4 separate regions of the Homo sapiens genome follow, and regions 1, 2 and 4 are each reported to be linked to region 3. Evidence: microRNA targets listed by miRTarBase, many of them from high-throughput screens and not tested one by one. Region 3 holds a microRNA gene; each other region holds the end of a gene's coding sequence. Distances are from middle to middle.
The links. Region 3 holds the annotated microRNA hsa-miR-5008-3p (CCUGUGCUCCCAGGGCCUCGC, at 2,836-2,856, shown strand). A microRNA usually pairs through its seed, bases 2 to 8, with sites in the 3' UTR of a target mRNA and lowers its output. Matches are read on the target gene's strand: a 7mer-m8 pairs with bases 2 to 8, a 7mer-A1 pairs with bases 2 to 7 and ends in A, and an 8mer does both.

Region 1: the mRNA of TTLL5 is a reported target of hsa-miR-5008-3p. Seed matches in the 3' UTR shown: 7mer-A1 at 3,116-3,122.
Region 2: the mRNA of MOB3C is a reported target of hsa-miR-5008-3p. Seed matches in the 3' UTR shown: 8mer at 709-716 and 7mer-m8 at 1,480-1,486.
Region 4: the mRNA of ING5 is a reported target of hsa-miR-5008-3p. Seed matches in the 3' UTR shown: 7mer-A1 at 681-687 and 7mer-m8 at 2,758-2,764.

The regions. Positions count from the first base shown.
Region 1 is chr14:75,953,912-75,957,911 of GRCh38, reverse strand. It overlaps TTLL5 (tubulin tyrosine ligase like 5), which reads right to left. Exons shown (of 32, transcript NM_015072.5): 32 at 2,833-3,488. The coding sequence ends at 3,466. Among named protein-coding and RNA genes, the nearest start is that of TGFB3, 26 kb to the left of the region's middle.
Region 2 is chr1:46,605,977-46,609,976 of GRCh38, reverse strand. It overlaps MOB3C (MOB kinase activator 3C), which reads left to right. Exons shown (of 4, transcript NM_201403.3): 4 at 293-2,258. The coding sequence ends at 322. Among named protein-coding and RNA genes, the nearest start is that of MKNK1, 3.7 kb to the right of the region's middle.
Region 3 is chr1:227,940,466-227,944,465 of GRCh38, reverse strand. MIR5008 (microRNA 5008) reads left to right here and starts at 2,783; the gene lies at 2,783-2,876. All of the region lies in intron 1 of WNT9A (Wnt family member 9A), which reads left to right. RefSeq lists an enhancer at 1,434-2,336.
Region 4 is chr2:241,724,518-241,728,517 of GRCh38, forward strand. ING5 (inhibitor of growth family member 5) reads left to right here. Exons shown (of 8, transcript NM_032329.6): 8 at 472-4,000. The coding sequence ends at 514. Among named protein-coding and RNA genes, the nearest start is that of D2HGDH, 8.1 kb to the right of the region's middle.

The DNA of each region.
Region 1 (4,000 bases), not on the chromosome of region 3:
TGCGTCTTTCCTTCTTGCAGAGTATATTATTCTCAGAGACACAGAGGCAGTGGCTCAGATTGGCAGAAAGCACATACGAATTTGACCTCCAGATACCTGTGGGCAGGATCCCCTGGTGTGAATCCTTGCATATGGAAACATGGTTTATTTACTAACTATAAATTACCAACATCACTGTTTTCGAAAATCTCCCCCCACCCGTATCAGTTGAGAATGAGAGAAAATGTGTATGGCAAATGGCCTAAAAATATGAGGCTAATTCTGTTCTCAGGCTAAGCCTAAAAGAGCTAACCAGGAACCCCTTTTCAGATTGTGGCCCTCTTGTCAGGGATCTGGGAACCATAGCTCTCTTTTGAGTGAGGCCGTGGATCCCACTGTGGTATGGACATCCACGTGGGGCAGCCGTCCACAGTGAGCGGGCACAGAGCGACAGGCCATCTAGCAGCTCCTGAGAAACACATTCTTCTAGTGAGATCACTTTGCCTCTAGTAAAAGAAAAGTCTATCTGAAGCTAAAGTATGCAGGCTGAAGGATGTGTCTGATGTGTTCATGCCTGTGTGTGTGTGTACGTATGTGTGTCCCTTGTTCCTTGAGTTCTCCAAGACTGAAGTGAGTTTGGTCAGTACTTTTTTCCCCGCTTTGTCCACGCCCAGCCAATTCTAAGGGTTTCCCTCTCAGTCTTCATCCCATGTGGCACCCACTGACTTCCACCATCGTTCGGAGGGCTATGTCCCTGTCCTAAAATCCTGGCTGGCGGGATTATACTCCATCTTGCTCCAGGGAGCCCGGGGGCACAGAGAGGGGATGCAGTAAGCTCAGCACATCAGCCACGGGCTGCTGCTGTCCCAGCATCAGTCTATTCACCTGAGGGCCATTCTCAAATTCACTGGGCATGATAACCCCCAAGGGTTTATTTAAAATGTACAGTTTCAGGCTGCAGCTCTAGAGGTACCTTTAGGACTGCAGTAGGGTCCAGGTTGCCTCAAAACTATTAACACATTTTGAGAAGTGGTGCATTACACCCGACATCACTCGTCCTTACTTGAGGCTTCAATATAGAAAAGGGAAATAATTTTTTTGGCCCCAGATGAAACCCCCTTTTATCCAACTTCACAGCACATTGCTAAAACATTGGCCTGTGGTTCATCCTAATGAACCAAGGCAGCTAGATACATTTCCTGGATTATTCCAAAGAAAACAGAACGTGGTGCAATTCCAAATGGTCTTTTTCTTCAGAGCTCTACTTGTAGGTTAGGCAGCAGACACAAATACGGACAGGGGTCTGAAGTCAGCCCCCCTATTCTACACATCACTGACAGGTGCTACAGAAACTTGAATCACTGTCTTCAAAAATCGACGCTTGTTTTGGGGGAGGGTAAAGAGTGACATTGGAAATATCACCTCTGTTGGAGGAGGGCTCATAGCATCTGTCTGGTTTATTGCCAAGTGAAGTCCAGTCCCAATAAAAATGACTTGAAAGCACTTGGACACATGAAGGGAGAGATCTGGTGTCTTAGCACCTGATCAGCATATGGTAAGTGCAGTAAGAAATTAGCTGGAAGACTTCATTCTGATTGGTTACCTAGGGCAATTTCAAGCATTATAGTCTAAAACTTCTTTTACTGGGCTCATACTTTTTTCCCTTGTCACAAGATTCACGTGGTGAGTCCTCCCAAACCCCTTATTTCCCAATTCTACACCTCATCAGGGGACTATGGAGGAATTCTAATTTGTCCCCTAATCAACTCACAACCAATTGAGCAAATAGTTAAGGTGGTCCTGAAACTACTCTCCAGTCCCGGGGACATTTGGAATGCATTCTTACTTCTCTTCTGAAACCCATAGACCTCATCCTTCACAAGCAAACAAAATGTGTCCATGTGCCCAAACCTTTGTTTTCATTCAGTAAGAAGGCAATAAAGTCCCTTTTCTGCCCTTTTAGGTGTCAATTTTTTCTTTTTTTTTTTTTTTTTTTTTTTTTTCAGGTGGAGTCTTGCTCTGTTGCCCAGGCTGGAGTGCAGTAGCATGATCTCGGCTCACTGCAACCTCTGCCTCCCAGGTTCAAGCAATTCTCCTGCCTCAGCCTCCCGAGTAGCTGAGATTACAGGCGCCTGCCACTGCGCCCAGCTAATCTTTGTATTTTTAGTAGAGACGAGGTTTCACCATCTTTGCCAGGCTAGTCTTGAACTCCTGACCTCGTGATTCACCCGCCTCGACCTCCCAAAGTGCTGGGATTACAGGCGTGAGCCACTGCGCTCAGCCAGGTGTCAATTTTCTTTTTGGATTTCAACACTGAGTCCATAGTACCCTGCTGAAGAAGCCCCAGAGCCTGGGTTCTCCCCTGATAACTCTCTAGGGCAGCTAAGTTAATCCTTCAGTGGACTCTGCTGTCCAACTCTCAACCTTTTCTCTAGCAGAAGCCAGAGAGAGAGGACATAGGAAAGGGGAGGAAGCAAGAGGGCGGAGGCTTGAGGGGAGAGCACTGGGGCTGTGCTGCATCATTCAGGTGAACTGCGAGGTATGCAACATGCAACTGGATACAGGGCTCAAGCCACTGGAGGCCCACGCTGTGAGTGAGCCTGCCTGTCGAGGGCTGATAACGGAGACATCTGCACATGCCCGCTCCCCAGGTGCAGGAGCTGCCTTTGGGAATAGCCTGGACCCACCATCTGCTGAAATGAAATGTAAAAATAAAACATCTCTTTACAGCTCACATTTCTAAAATGTTTAAAAAATTGCACAGCCACAAAGTAAAATAAAAAACTGGTTCTACTTCAGTCCTGTTTGTGAATATTGATTGTTGGGAAATTAGTAAAGGGAAAAAAAAGAAAATAAAAATAGAATTACTTTATTAATCTTTGAAATCAGTAATTCCAAAGGGTGCCTTTACCCTGGCTCATGTTGTCAATGGCACACCGATTTGTCTCCTCTCTCTAGGAAACTTGTGATGAATGCTCCTCTTTCCCCCTAGATCCTCCGAAAAGGGAGGAACAACTTTGGCGGATGATGATGTTGAAATTTTAAGCTTGTACAAAGAAAATAAAGCTTCATACTGTAATCTGGAAAAGAAGAGGAAGCAAAATGCAAATAGCCAAAGAGCCTCTTTTATATCATCTCTGTGCAGCAGCAGTAAAGGGACAGAGAAGACCTAAGCAGTTTGGGGGCATGGGGCAAAGGGAAGGTAAAAGATACAAGTGTGCTCTGACGGGGTATATAATGCATCAGCTGAATGTCCCCACTGCCAAGTTCCATCAAAACCCAGAAGATCTGCTTTCTTGTTGTCCCAGTGAAAGTCTGCATTGGCTGATTGGCAACCATCTACTGCCACTTCTGCTCGAAGGCTTTGGGGACTTTGAGGCAGCAAAAAAAAAAATACTATGGACCCCTTGAAGTGCTGGTGGATGCTTCACCCTCAATCATGCACCCAGGAGTGGTGAACAGGTTGTTTCTCTGTGTGTTTGTGGTTCATATTTTAGTGTGAGCAGGATCTGAAAAAGAGAAAGGCAACCATGAAATGAATGAAATGACAGCATGGGGTTTTACTTACAGGCAGCAATGTCTGGTTTATCTAACATCACTGAAGAATAAAGAAGTGGTGGCCCAAATAAATGAAGTTCACCTCTAAGTGGAAAGCTCTTTTTTTTTTTTTTTTTTTTTTTGAGATGGAGTCTCACTCTGTCGCCCAGGCTGGAGTGCAGTGGCGCGATCTCGGCTCACTGCAAGCTCCGCCTCCCGGGTTCACACCATTCTCCTGCCTCAGCCTCCCGAGTAGCTGGGACTACAGGTGCCCACCACCCACCATACCCGGCTAATTTTTTTGTATTTTTAGTGGAGATGGGGTTTCACCGTGTTAGCCAGGATGGTCTCCATCTCCTGACCTCGTGATCTGCCCACCTCGGCCTCCCAAAGTGCTGGGATTACAGGTGTGAGCCACTGCGCCTGGCCACAAAGCTCTTAATTTTAACCACTTTTGTTGGAAACCTTCCTAAAATACTCCCAA
Region 2 (4,000 bases), 180 Mb from region 3:
CCTACCAAGGCTAGCCTCTGAGTTTTCACGTCCAAAAGCTGCCTGCTTTAAGTAACTCCAACGCCCAAGTAGATGAATTAGGGGAAGGCAATTCATTTAACAGTGAATTCTGTACTTCAATAGAGAATTCATTCAAGTGTTGGTTTACAAACCCAGATCTGCAGCCTAAGAGTTGGGGTTGCTGGGGGAAGGCCAGGCTCAGACAGAAGAGCAGCTAGGCCCTATGGTTTGGGAAGGGATTGCCTAGTAGGCTGAGCTCTAATTGACCCCTCCCTACCTTGTGTCTCTACAGAGGGAGATGACAGAGCGGATCTGCCACTGAGCCCAGGTCTGGACTTTTTTGGCCATCAGATGGACGATCTGAACATAGGGTGGCTGGCAGAGGGGACCCCCAGGAGCCTGAAGGAATCTGAAGGCACTGGAATCACTCCACACACCCAAAGCCTCTGGACTTCTGGTTCTCAGGAGTCTGCCTACCTGTCGCCCTGACCGCTTGTGGATGGAGAAGGGGAGAGCATCTAGGCAGGCAAACAGAAGGGAAGTGGAGTTAAACCTCTGGCATGAAGTCTGGGAGTAGGGTAGGCTAGGGGGTTTCTTCTATGACACTTGACCCTTCCATGCTGGTTCCCAAGCCTATTGGAGGAATGTGGGTGTGGCCGAGGTGATGGCAAGAAAGGTGCAAGAAAGTGAGCAGTCTGCCTGTGAGTGAGCACAGATGCCGGGGTGTGTGTGTGTGTGTGTGATTTTCACTGTGGGGTGTGTCTGTGAGAGCTAGCTGCCTTACCCCTCCTTGGCACATAGTAGGCCTTCCATAAATGTTGGATGGATGGATAAATAGATTGGGACCATCAGACCATGGGACCATCAGACCATGACCACTGTAGGAGTGATGACAGCTCAGCGTCCCCACTCAGTGTATCTGACCATGTGTGTAAGTGCACAAAAATGTGGTTGTAGATGTTGCTCTACATTCAAACCTTCCAGGCTACACTCTTCCATCAGCATGAGTCCTGGAGAGCTGGGGGAACGTAGGAAGAGGAGCCTTGCCTTGAGTTCCTAAACCGACCCACTGCAGACACAGGCTCTGATTCTCTTACCCAGAGATGCCCATGAGCTGACATTTTACTCATCCCTCTGCCTCCAAGAAGGCCTGTATTATACGTGTCCTCCTGGGGGTTGGAGATGATCCCTCAAGTACACAAAGGTCCCCTGGCCCTTCATCTGGGAATCATATACTCCACTCTAGCTCCCAGAATCTACAGACCTGGCTCCTCGGATCTGAAGCCCAGCACAAAATAATCTCCCCGTCCAAGGAGCTTGTGGAACTTGAATTGGGAACTTTGGAGTCTTGTCTCCCATCCCAGCACATTGAGGATGTAGTTGGTGAATGGACTCTTCCAGGCATGGAGATCCTCCATCCTAAAAGTACCTGCCTCCTTCCCAGCCATCCCTGACACATTCCAGCCAGTTGGATCTCACAGCACAGCTATCCACAGGGAGACTGGGATGTTCACGCAGCACTCCATTACTCAGTACCTCCATACCCAGCCCTATACGCAGACCCACAGGTGGGGAAACTGAGGCAGGAACAGGGTTCTGCCCTCCCAGAGCCTCCACTCTGGGATGCCAGAATGGAAAGCCAGAGGGAACCTGAGAATCATCCAGTCTTACTGTCTCAATGTACATACGGGGAAACTGAAGCCAGGAGAAGAAGAGGGAGAAACTGTCCAGGGCCTCACAGGGAGGCATTCATGGAGCTGGAGAAACCAGGGATCCTGACCGCAGGGCCCATCAATTGCTACATAGAGATACACATGGAAAGAGGGTTTAACAGACCCTCTCTAGGACACAACTGTTTCTGCTTTGAGCAATAATTTCTAACCTGAGGCCAACATGTCCCACTGCCCCTTGGGTTGGCTGGGGTTGTTTCCTGAGCCAAGCATCCAATATCATGCCCCACTCAATGGCCTAGAAGCTGCCTGTACTTTGGGGAAACAGATGGAGCTCTTGGGCCCAGCCAGCTGGGCCTGGGACTTCTGCCTCTGCCGCCTCCAGAGTGGCCTGGCAGCTTTGCCAGAGGCTGTGGAGCGAGGGTAGTAGGAGCTTTTCCCAGAGTGCTGTGACTTGCATGATGGATTCTAGGCTGTGGCAAGGGCTGATTTCTGGGATAGGGGGAGGGTTGGAAAATTTATTTTTATGAAACAGAGGGAAGACTTTATTGTTGTTATTTTTGGTAAAATAAAAGGCAAACTAAAGCAGCCACTGGTGGGAAGCGGTGATCTGGGTGCCACATGGCTCTTGGCAGACCATGGAAGGAACTGAGCCAGAATGGGGCTGGGAAGGCTTTTTGTCCTGAGATACTGGACCATGTGGAGGGCTGGCTGGTGTGGTCATGTCTGGCCCAGCTCTCTAGGGTGGGGACACAAAGATTCTCCTGGGGCTCTGGAAATTCTAGACCGAGCTAGGCTAGGACGCTTGGGGTGGAGAAGCCTGGCTTTTCTTTGCCTTCCGGGAACTCAGTCTGATAGGAATCGTTCCTTGTTTCATCTCAGGTTGCCTGGCATTGGCTATTCTTTTTTTTCTTTTTCTTTTTTTTTTTTTTTTTGAGATGGAGTCTTGCTCTGTCACCCAGGTTGGAGTGCAGTGGCGCGATCTTGGCTCACTGCAAGCTCCGCCTCCTGGGTTCATGCCATTCTCCTGCCTCAGCCTCCGGAGTAGCTGGGACTACAGGCACCCACCACCACGCCCAGCTAATTTTTTTGTATTTTTAGTAGAAACGGGGTTTCACCGCGTTAGCCAGGATGGTCTCGATCTCCTGACCTCGTGATCTACCCGCCTCGGCCTCCCAAAGTGCTGGGATTACAGGCATGAGCCACCACGCCTGGCCTGGCATTGGCTATTCTCACTCCAGCCCCTTACTCTGGGTGGTTTTTTTTTGAGGTAGTAGATAAAAGGACAGAGTGGAAATACAATCCCAACACTAATTACAGGACAGGAGGCCATCCTGAAGAGGAAGATACTTGTTGCTGGCTGGAGCTACGGTGGGGGTGGCAGGACATGGGCCTGACTCCTGAGCTTACTCCCCAGTAGACATCTGCATCTATTGGCTCAGGTCTTGCTGTCATTCCACTGCCCCAACTCACAAGCTGCCTGGGCAGGAATTAAAAAGCAGCTTGGTTCTTAAGAGTCAACAAAGGCCCATCTAGAGCTCTTCCCTCTTCCTGCAAAGGAGCCAGCCTGGCTTTGTGCAGAGGCTCTCCTGGGAGGCAAAGGCATAGGTTGTAGCCCCAGCCCAGCTCCTGAAGTTCCATTGCAAGCCCATTCCCCCTCTAGACCCCAACCCTTCATCTATTTTGTTATCAGTGATGGGAGTGAAGGACTGATTGATCTCAGCTCCTTCATTATATAGTCTATGAATCATTCACAGTCATCATAACAGCTAATGTTCATTATGTGTCAGGTACACTTCTAAGTGCTTGACATATAATAGCTTGTTGAATCAAGTGTGTCTTTGGCCAGCTGCCTTGCTTCCCTTCCAGCCCCCAATATCCCTGCCTTTAGTCACTCCTCTAGAATCTGGAAGGCCCTCCATTCTGCTGCCTCTTCCTCTGGCTCACCACAGGAGGCCCAATCCCAGCATTCTAAAAGGGTGCTATTTGCACACCTCCTATAACAGATCGCTCACTACCTCCTCTGTCATTGGACAGCTCAGACTGTTACAAGTCCCATGCTTTGGGTTCATGGTCATTTTGAAATATGACCATGGCAGTGAGAGTAGATTTATCTTAGAACTGTGTGACCCAAGACCTGCACCTTACATGAGAATATCTGTAAATACATTAGGAAGCTGACACAAAATTGCTTTGAGAGATTCACAGAGGGATGCTTAAAGAAGAATAGACAGAAAGGAAGAGAAGGGGAAAAGAAAGAGATAGGGCCTCAATGATGCAGATAAAAGAGCACACTCCCATGGGGCAAAACCTAGTAACAAAGGGTCCTG
Region 3 (4,000 bases):
CTCATTTGCCAGGCCATGCAGCTCTCACCACTGTTTAATTCCAGAACATTTTCCTCACCCCAGAAACCTCATACGCATTAGGCAGTCGCTGCCCGTTCCCCTCCCCCAGTCCCTGGCAACCACTTGTCTGCGTTCTTTCTCCACGGGTCTGCCTGTCCTGGACGTTTCCTAGAAATGGAATCCTATGCCGTGTGGCCTCCGCGCCTGGCTTCTCTCACTCAGCATCACCGTTGTAGCACGCGTTAGTATTGCCTTCTTTCTTATGACTGAGTTAGACTCGACTGGAAGACTCTCCGAGAGATTTTTTGACCGTTCATCAGTTGACGGACATCTGGATCACTTCCACTGTTTGGCTATGATGGATAATGTTGCTGTGAGCATTGGTATGTGAGGTTTTGTGTGTGTGTGTGTGTTTTCAGTTCTTGGGGTACATAGAAGTGGAGGTACTGGGTCACATGCATGTGATGTTTTTGTTTTGTTTTATTGAGACAGAGTCTTGCTCTGTCACCCGGGCTAGAGTGCAGCGATGTGATGAAGGCTCATTGCTGCCTCCACCTCAGAGGCTCAACCGTCCTCCCACCTCAGCATCCCAAGTAGCTGGGACCACAGGCACAAGCCACTAATCCTGGCTAATTTTTTTAAATTTTATTTTTTGTAGAGATGGGGTTTTACCATGCTGTCCAGGCTGATTTTGAACTCCTGGGCTCAAGGGATCTCCCACGTCAGCCTCGCAAAGTGCTGGGGTTACAGGCGTGAGCCCTTGCTCCCCGCCTGCATTTAGGTTTTTGAGGCCCTGCCAAACCCTTCTGGATGCAGCATCTTACATTTCTGCCGGCAGTGCAGAAAGGCTCCTTTCTCCACTTCCTCGCTGACACTGGTTTTCTGTTTTATTTTCTACCGCAGCCATCCTAGTGGGTGTGGAATGGCACCTTGTGGGGCTCTGACTGCATTTGTCAGGTGGCCAGTGGCGCTGAGCATCTTTTCGTGGCCTCATGGGCCATGGGTCTTCTTTGGAGAATGTCCATGCAGCTCCTTTGCCTGTTTTTAGTGGGGCTGCTTGTCTTTCTCCTGTTGAGTTTATGAGAGCTCTTTATATATTTGGATTTCTCCTTGGACTGAGAAGAACCTTGTCTCTAGACCTGTGAGCCTGTGGGCGCTCTTACCCCTGCACAAGGAGCCAGCGACACCCTGGCAGCCCCACTGGGTGGGTGGGGGCAGCCAGGACATCCCCCGTTGCCTAGAGCCTGGTGTGGGGCAGTTCTGGGTGCTCAGGGGACTCTCAAGAGGAGGCTGCGGAGAGGCTGCTGTCATGGGCGTGGGGAGGGGATGTGTTTCTCACATTAGTGCCAACATCAGACCCCGCAGGGTCCAAGAGGGAGGCTGCTGGCTGTGGGCAGGACATACCCTGCCTGGTCCCATGGCTCTGCCTCTCTGTGCATCAGGCCTGGGGCACAGCTGGCTGCCTGGATGAGGGGCACCTGTGGGTCCCTGGCAGGGCCGGAGAAGGAGGGGTGGGCCTGAGGTGTGGAATCATGGGGCTGTGTGCTGGGCAAGAGAAGCCTGGGAAGGAGCTGGCAAGAAGGCGGCATCTGGGGTGACCCCATGGCTGGGGCCTGGGTCGGGTGCTCTGAGCACTGTGGGCCGGGGGGTTTGGGAGCAGCTGAGAGCTCAGGCTTAGGTTTGGGCAGGCACTGTCCTGGAGACCCACCCCCTCCAACAACTTAGGACACCCCAGGAAGCATGTGGGGCCTGGCATCAGGAAGAAAGGCCACACAGAGTGCTCTGGAGGGCCAGAAGGGCAGGGAGGAAAGGGGCCAGGGAGCTGCCTTGTTTCGAGAGATCGTGGAAGTGGCTCAGTGGGGCAGACCTCAGCAGAGGGCTGAGAGGAGGGGCCCTGGGGGCCAGGGGACTCCCTGGGGACTTCTTAGCATGGAGAGGAGAGGACAGGGCCAGTGGAAAGTCGGGGCATTTCTCCAGGACTCCTGGACTGGGACCCCGTGGCCAGTAGAGGGACCCAGGTGCTTGGCTTCCCTGACAGTGGGGCCGTAAGTGGGAGGGTCTGGAGTGTCAGCCTGATGGCCCCTGCAGGCGCTGGTGGCCTTCCTCCTTCCTGCTCTGCACCCAGGGGCCTTGGAACCCCCAGCCTCTCCCTGCCCCACCTGCTTGGGGGTCCTGGCTCCCTGGAGGGTGTGGAGGGTGTGTGGTAAGGACGGAGCAGCAGTGCCTGGCCTGCCACAGCTGAGGGAGCAGATGTCCTGTCCACAGCCGGCGGACGTCTGGTTGGGGAGACAGCTGGCCTCATCTTGCTCCCGCCCTGCTGCAGGCTGCAGAGGGCCCCAGTGCCTGCCCTGGCCTGGGACCTTCCGCCGGCTGCTGGGGTGGCCCGGGCTGGGGGTGCCCTGCTCTGGGGTTTGGCCATCAAAGAAGCGTGTGGGTGACTCTTCCCCTAGGAAAGAGCACACAGGCACGGATACCTCCTGGAGGCTCTGGACCCTGGGGCAGGGAGGAGGTGATGCCTGTGGGAGGGTGGGGGCTGCGGGAAAGCGACACCTGTTGACAGGCCTCGGTCGCGCCACCTGATCCCAGCTGCGGCACGGGCTCCCTTTGTGCATTGTGCTGGGCGGCGGGGTCAGGACCGGTGCAGTTGTCTGGGACCAGGGTGGCTCCCGCAGCAGTGTCTGTGGGACTGGGGACTGAGCCAGGCCCCCAGAACCCAGAAGGCCAGCCACGAGTGGGGGTTCCCCAGACCCCATGCCTTCTGGCTGGAAGTTGACCTCTGATGGGGCTGACCCCTAGGGTCAGGTGAGGCCCTTGGGGCACAGTGGTGCCATCTCCCCTGTGCTCCCAGGGCCTCGCCTGTCCCTTGAGGTCGGCCCCAGCTGCTGCTTCTTGCAGGAAGCCCAGTGACTGCCCAGATGCCTCCTTCTCTCCCTGCATGCTCAACTCTGGGGTTTGCCAGGAGGGTCCCCATGGAGTCTCCTCAGATGCATCCTTCTCTCCCTGGTTGCTCAACTCTGGGGTCAGCCAGGAGGGTTCCCGTGGGGTCTCTTCAGATGCATTCTATTCTCCCTGGTCGCTCAACTCTGGGATCAGCCAGGAGGGTCCCCTTGTGTTCTCCTCAGATGCATCCTTCTCTCCCTGGTCGCTCAATTCTGGGATTGGCCAGAAGGGTCCCTGTGGGGTCTTCTCCAAGCTGCATTCTGTGTGCCCTCCTATCCCAAGACTCCCTCAAGCCTGAGGCTCTCCCTGCCAGGTGGATCTGTGTCACTCATTCACCTGGCAGCCCAGCCCCGGGTCCTACAGGACTCTGACTCTGGCAGGGCTGTGTCTACACTTGTGGCCAGACGTAGTGCAGTGCAGACCTGGCTGCCAGGCTGCCGCACCTTCCCGTGTGTGGACGATAGGCCAGGTGTTGATGGCCCCACCAGAGCAGCCATGCAGAGTGCAGCCCCGGCGGGGACGTGACCCTGGTTTTCCTTCAGGGGTCATATTCAAGCACATCCGTGGTCCAGGCCGGGCAGGGTGGCAGGTGGCTGGGGATGGTCTTGCTGTGCCTGCTGACCTGGGTGGCACTGGGCCGCCCCGGCCCCGTGACCTGCAGCCTGGGCCCTCCCAGGAGCCTGTTGCCCTCCCGGCATGGTCCTGGCTGGCTGGGCGCCGCTGCCCGCCAGAGGAAGCCCAGCTGTCCAGCTGGCAGTTGCAGCACCTCAGGACCAGTGGCCGGATGGGACGATGGAAAAAGGCAAGCCGCAGGCTGCATTTGTTTTTTTTAGCGATACCTGAGGTCAGTGCAGCCAGGGGAAGTGGGCTGGAGGTCTGGCCCAGGAGGAGCTGCTGCCAGAGCCTCCCAGAGCTGGAGAACGTCAGGGCCGGCGTCCCTCCTGGCCAGATGGGGACAGAGGCTGCAGACCTGGAGTCACTGTGGGGTGGGGAGGGGAGCCAGGTGGACTTTGGGATGCTCCCTCTGTGACACCTACAGGAGAGTGAGCTCCAGAAGGGA
Region 4 (4,000 bases), not on the chromosome of region 3:
GCGTGCAGCTCCAGAACTTGCTCAGAGTCACCAGGGAGCACTTGTGAGACGGCAGCTTCCAGGGCCAGTGCAGGGTGCCTGGCTGGGTTTCCGTGGGCCTGAGGGGCTGCCATGCTCTCAACGCGTGCTTGGTACCTGCAGCCCCCACAGACTGCAGACAGAGGGCACCAGCGACCCTGCCATCGGCCGGGGAAGAAGGACCCACCTGTTAAGGAGGAACGCCTGGGTGTCAAATCGGTTTTGCTCATTGATGGTGTATCTGTCAGCTTCAGAACCGGCGTCCTGCATAGAGCCGCACGTGCATCGGCGCATTTTCCCTGCGGGAGGGCCGCGGCCCCACTGCGTGTGCCTCTCCTGGTGCCCTCCTGCCGGCGTCCAGCAGCCCTGGGAGACATGGGGAGGCGGGCCCTGGGCACCCTGCGCGCTGGCGGAAATGGCGCCCAGGGCCTCACTGCGCCTTTCTTGTCACAGGTTCTGTCCACGGTGTGTCCAGGAAAAGAGGAAGAAGAAGTAGGAGGAGCTGTGTGCCCGGATCCGAGGAGCAAGTTAATCTGTCCCTTCATTCGTGTCGCAATATTTCCCTTCCTTTTAAAACTACCTTGTTCGGTTGATACTTAGTAACTCCGTGGCCAGTTGAAGCGCTGGATGTTTCCTAGAACAAGAACCACCAAAGCCTGTTCGCACAGAAGGGCGACCTTGCAGGGACTCGCCGCCGCGACCTCAGTGTGGCTTTTACAGGACTCCCCCCGAGCATCAGCAGGGACCCCGGCGGACGTGGGCGGGCGCGCGTGAGCTCGGGCTGCCCGGCCGGGCGTGCGGGCGGGGACATGGTAACCTGGTCCACGGAGGGCGGCCGCCACCCTCGCGTAGCTTTCCTGTGGTTTTCCAGGACTGTCCGGTACAGCCCGGGCTCCGCGTGCCCCGCCCGCTGGAGCACCTGCCACCGAGGCGCGCGTGGGGCCACTGCCGTGGCGGCGGCTGCCCTCCTCACACTCGGCTCCGCGCCGCCTCCGGCCACCGTGCGCTCCCGCGTGGGGCGCCTCGGATGGGCCCGGGAGGGCTGGGGGCTCTTCCCTGGAGGAAGCGGCCTCCGCTTCGCTGGCGCCGCCTTTTTAGCTTGGACTTCAGTCCTCCCTCGGGGACTCACCTCCGGAGTAAACGGCTCTTCATTAGCTTGGAGTGGCCGCAGGTCCCGTGACCAGCACCCGCGAGACCCTGTGCGACAGCTGGGCTGATGCTCCGTTTCTCTGGGAATTGGTGATTTTTTACTGTGAAGATGAAATTACCCTAATAGCATGAAGATCGTGGGTCTGTGTGTCCGTGAAGTGAGTCCCGTCTGCCAGGAGCTGACGAACCACGAATGCTTCTGCCTGTGCTGTGCATTCCCAGGCCCGCAGCTCCCGGTCGAGGGGACTCCGATGTGAATTTGTTGTGAATTTGTTGTGCCACAATAGCAGTTCTGGAATGAAGCTAGGAAACTCGAGTGTGCTTTTTGTTTAATGAGCGTTCACCAAGCTGAGCCGGAGCCATCCTTTCGGTGGTAGTTGGGGAAGGCTATGCAGATTTGCTCTGTTGTGACGCGTTGGTGACGGTGCCCAGCCTGCGGTTCCCCACAGCATCGCAGGCGCTCGGAAATCCTCTCCCGTGCCTTTAGAGGAAGGAGAGGATTGCTGAGGAATGCAGGGACGCCTGTTTCTGTCCTCACACCACAGAAAGAAACCTGAGGGAAAACTGAGACGTGAGGTTCCTGATTTAAGAAGCCTGGGTTTCTTCATGGTGGGGGGCCATTTGGAATGACAGCCTCACTTCCTTCTGATGGCTACATCTGTATCTTTTCCTCCTGTGTTTAATGTTTCACTAGGGAGAGGAAATAAAGCAGAAGGAACGTGTGAAGCTCTGTGTCTCAGACGGGGCCCTCCCGTCGAGAAGCTGGTAGTCAGTGAGTGAGAACAAGAGAACAAGAACACCCTGAACAGTCCTGGTTGGGATGGTGTCCACATTCATGTTCTGCGGTTCTTGAACACACGGATGCCTCTGGGCCACCTGTCCTTTTCCGAGGGTGTGGGTGGGAGTGGATCCTCCGGGCGCAGGTGCCAGGCAGGTGCAGGCGGGCGGTCGGCCACTGCTGCTGCTCGTCCCTGCCAGTGTCTGGGCCTGAAGGGGCTCCCTCCAAGCGGTGCCTTCCTGCGGCTTAGAAGGGAAAGCGCCAGAGAGGGCAGGCTACAGTGCTTCACACCCTTCGCCACGGCTGTGAAACTGGAGATGGGTGGGTTTTGTATGTTAATTTTTTTTTTTGAGACGGAGTCTTGCTCTGTCACCCAGGCTGGAGAGCAGTGGCGTGATCTCGGCTCACTGCAAGCTCCGCCTCCCGGGTTCACGCCATTCTCCTGCCTCAGCCCCCCCGAGTAGCTGGGACTACAGGCGCCCGCCACCACGCCTGGCTAATTTTTTATATTTTTAGTAGAGACAGGGTTTCACCATGTTAACCAGGATGGTCTCGATCTCCTGACCTCACGATTTGCCCGCCTCGGCTTCCCAGAGTGCTGGGATTACAGGCGTGAGCCACCGCGCCTGGCCACCCAGCTAAGTTTGTATTTTTGTTGGAGACGGGGTTTCACCATATTGGCCAGACTGGTCTCAAACTCCTGGGGTCAAATGATCCGCCTGCGTCGGCTTCCCAGAGTGCTGGGATTACAGGTGTCAGCCACTGCGCTCAGCTGGGAGATGAATTTTCATTTAATGACTTAACTTTTTGTTAGCACAGGTTTTGTGTGTGTGTGTGTGTGTGTGTTTTGTTTTTTGTTTTGTGTTTTTGAAACGGAGTTTTGCTCTGTCACCCAGGCTGGAATGCAATGGCACCATCTTGGCTCACTGCAACCTCTGCTTCCTGGGTTCAAGTGATTCTCTTGCCTTAGCCTCCCGAGCAGCTGGGATTATAGGCGTCCACCACCACGCCCAGCTAATTTTTGTATTTTTAGTAGAAATGGGGTTTCACCATGTGTGGCCAGGCTGGTCTCGAACTCCTGACCTGAAGTGATCCACCCGCCTCGACCTCCCAAAGTGCTGGGATGACAGGCATGAGCCACCGCACCCGGCCAACACAGATGTTTATTGATCGTGGAGGATACATTGTGGAAAATGTTTTTCTCTCTTTTACCATTTTTGGGAAGAGGGATAGGTAAGTGCAGGGAGTTTGTGCTGAAACAGCGCCTGGCAATTTTTCAGAAATGAATTTGATATTGCGCTCCACCTTTGAGCTGTTCACACCTGTGGCTACCCCTGGAAAGCGCTGGGGTTGTTGATGCTTTTGGCTGCCCGGCTTCCTGAGGTCTCGCTGCTTTTTGGGGAAAGATGACTGGCTTCCCTGTGGGACGCTTTTGTCTGACACGTGATGATGTGGTCCTGCCTGCCACTGTGCACCATCCCAGGTATTGAATTTTGACCTTTTCTTTTCAAGTTTCTGTGCTTAGTGTTTTTAATGTTTACTTTTGCCACTTACAATAATATCACCAAAATAATATGCATAGAGTTTTGGAAGAAACATAGAAAACATGAGCAGAATGAGACAATTCCTTGGGCTGTAGTTTGGACCCAACTGAATCCTGAGTGCTCTGTGGCTGACGCTGTCTACCCGTGGGAGAGACACACTCAGGAGTGGCCGTTTGGCCAGAAAAGAAGGTCATGGCCCCTGGCCTGGCCCCCGCCCTGCAGGGACACAGAAGCCACACCATTTGCACCATCCACGCCTTGCTCCAGAAGGCCTGGCCGCCTTCTCCCTGGGGGTGATTCAAGGATTTGGTCTCGGACCAGACCCCCCTCCACAGCTGCCCGGCCCCAGACCCATCTCTTGGATTGAGGGTGTGTGGGCTGGAACCAGTGGGTCACTGTGGCAGCTTCATCTGAGCCGAAGGTGTGGGTCCTCTGTGGCTGTGCGATTGACCTCGATGGGAAGGAGCGTTCTACCCATTTTCCTTGTTTTCAGTGCTGCGGTATCAGTCAG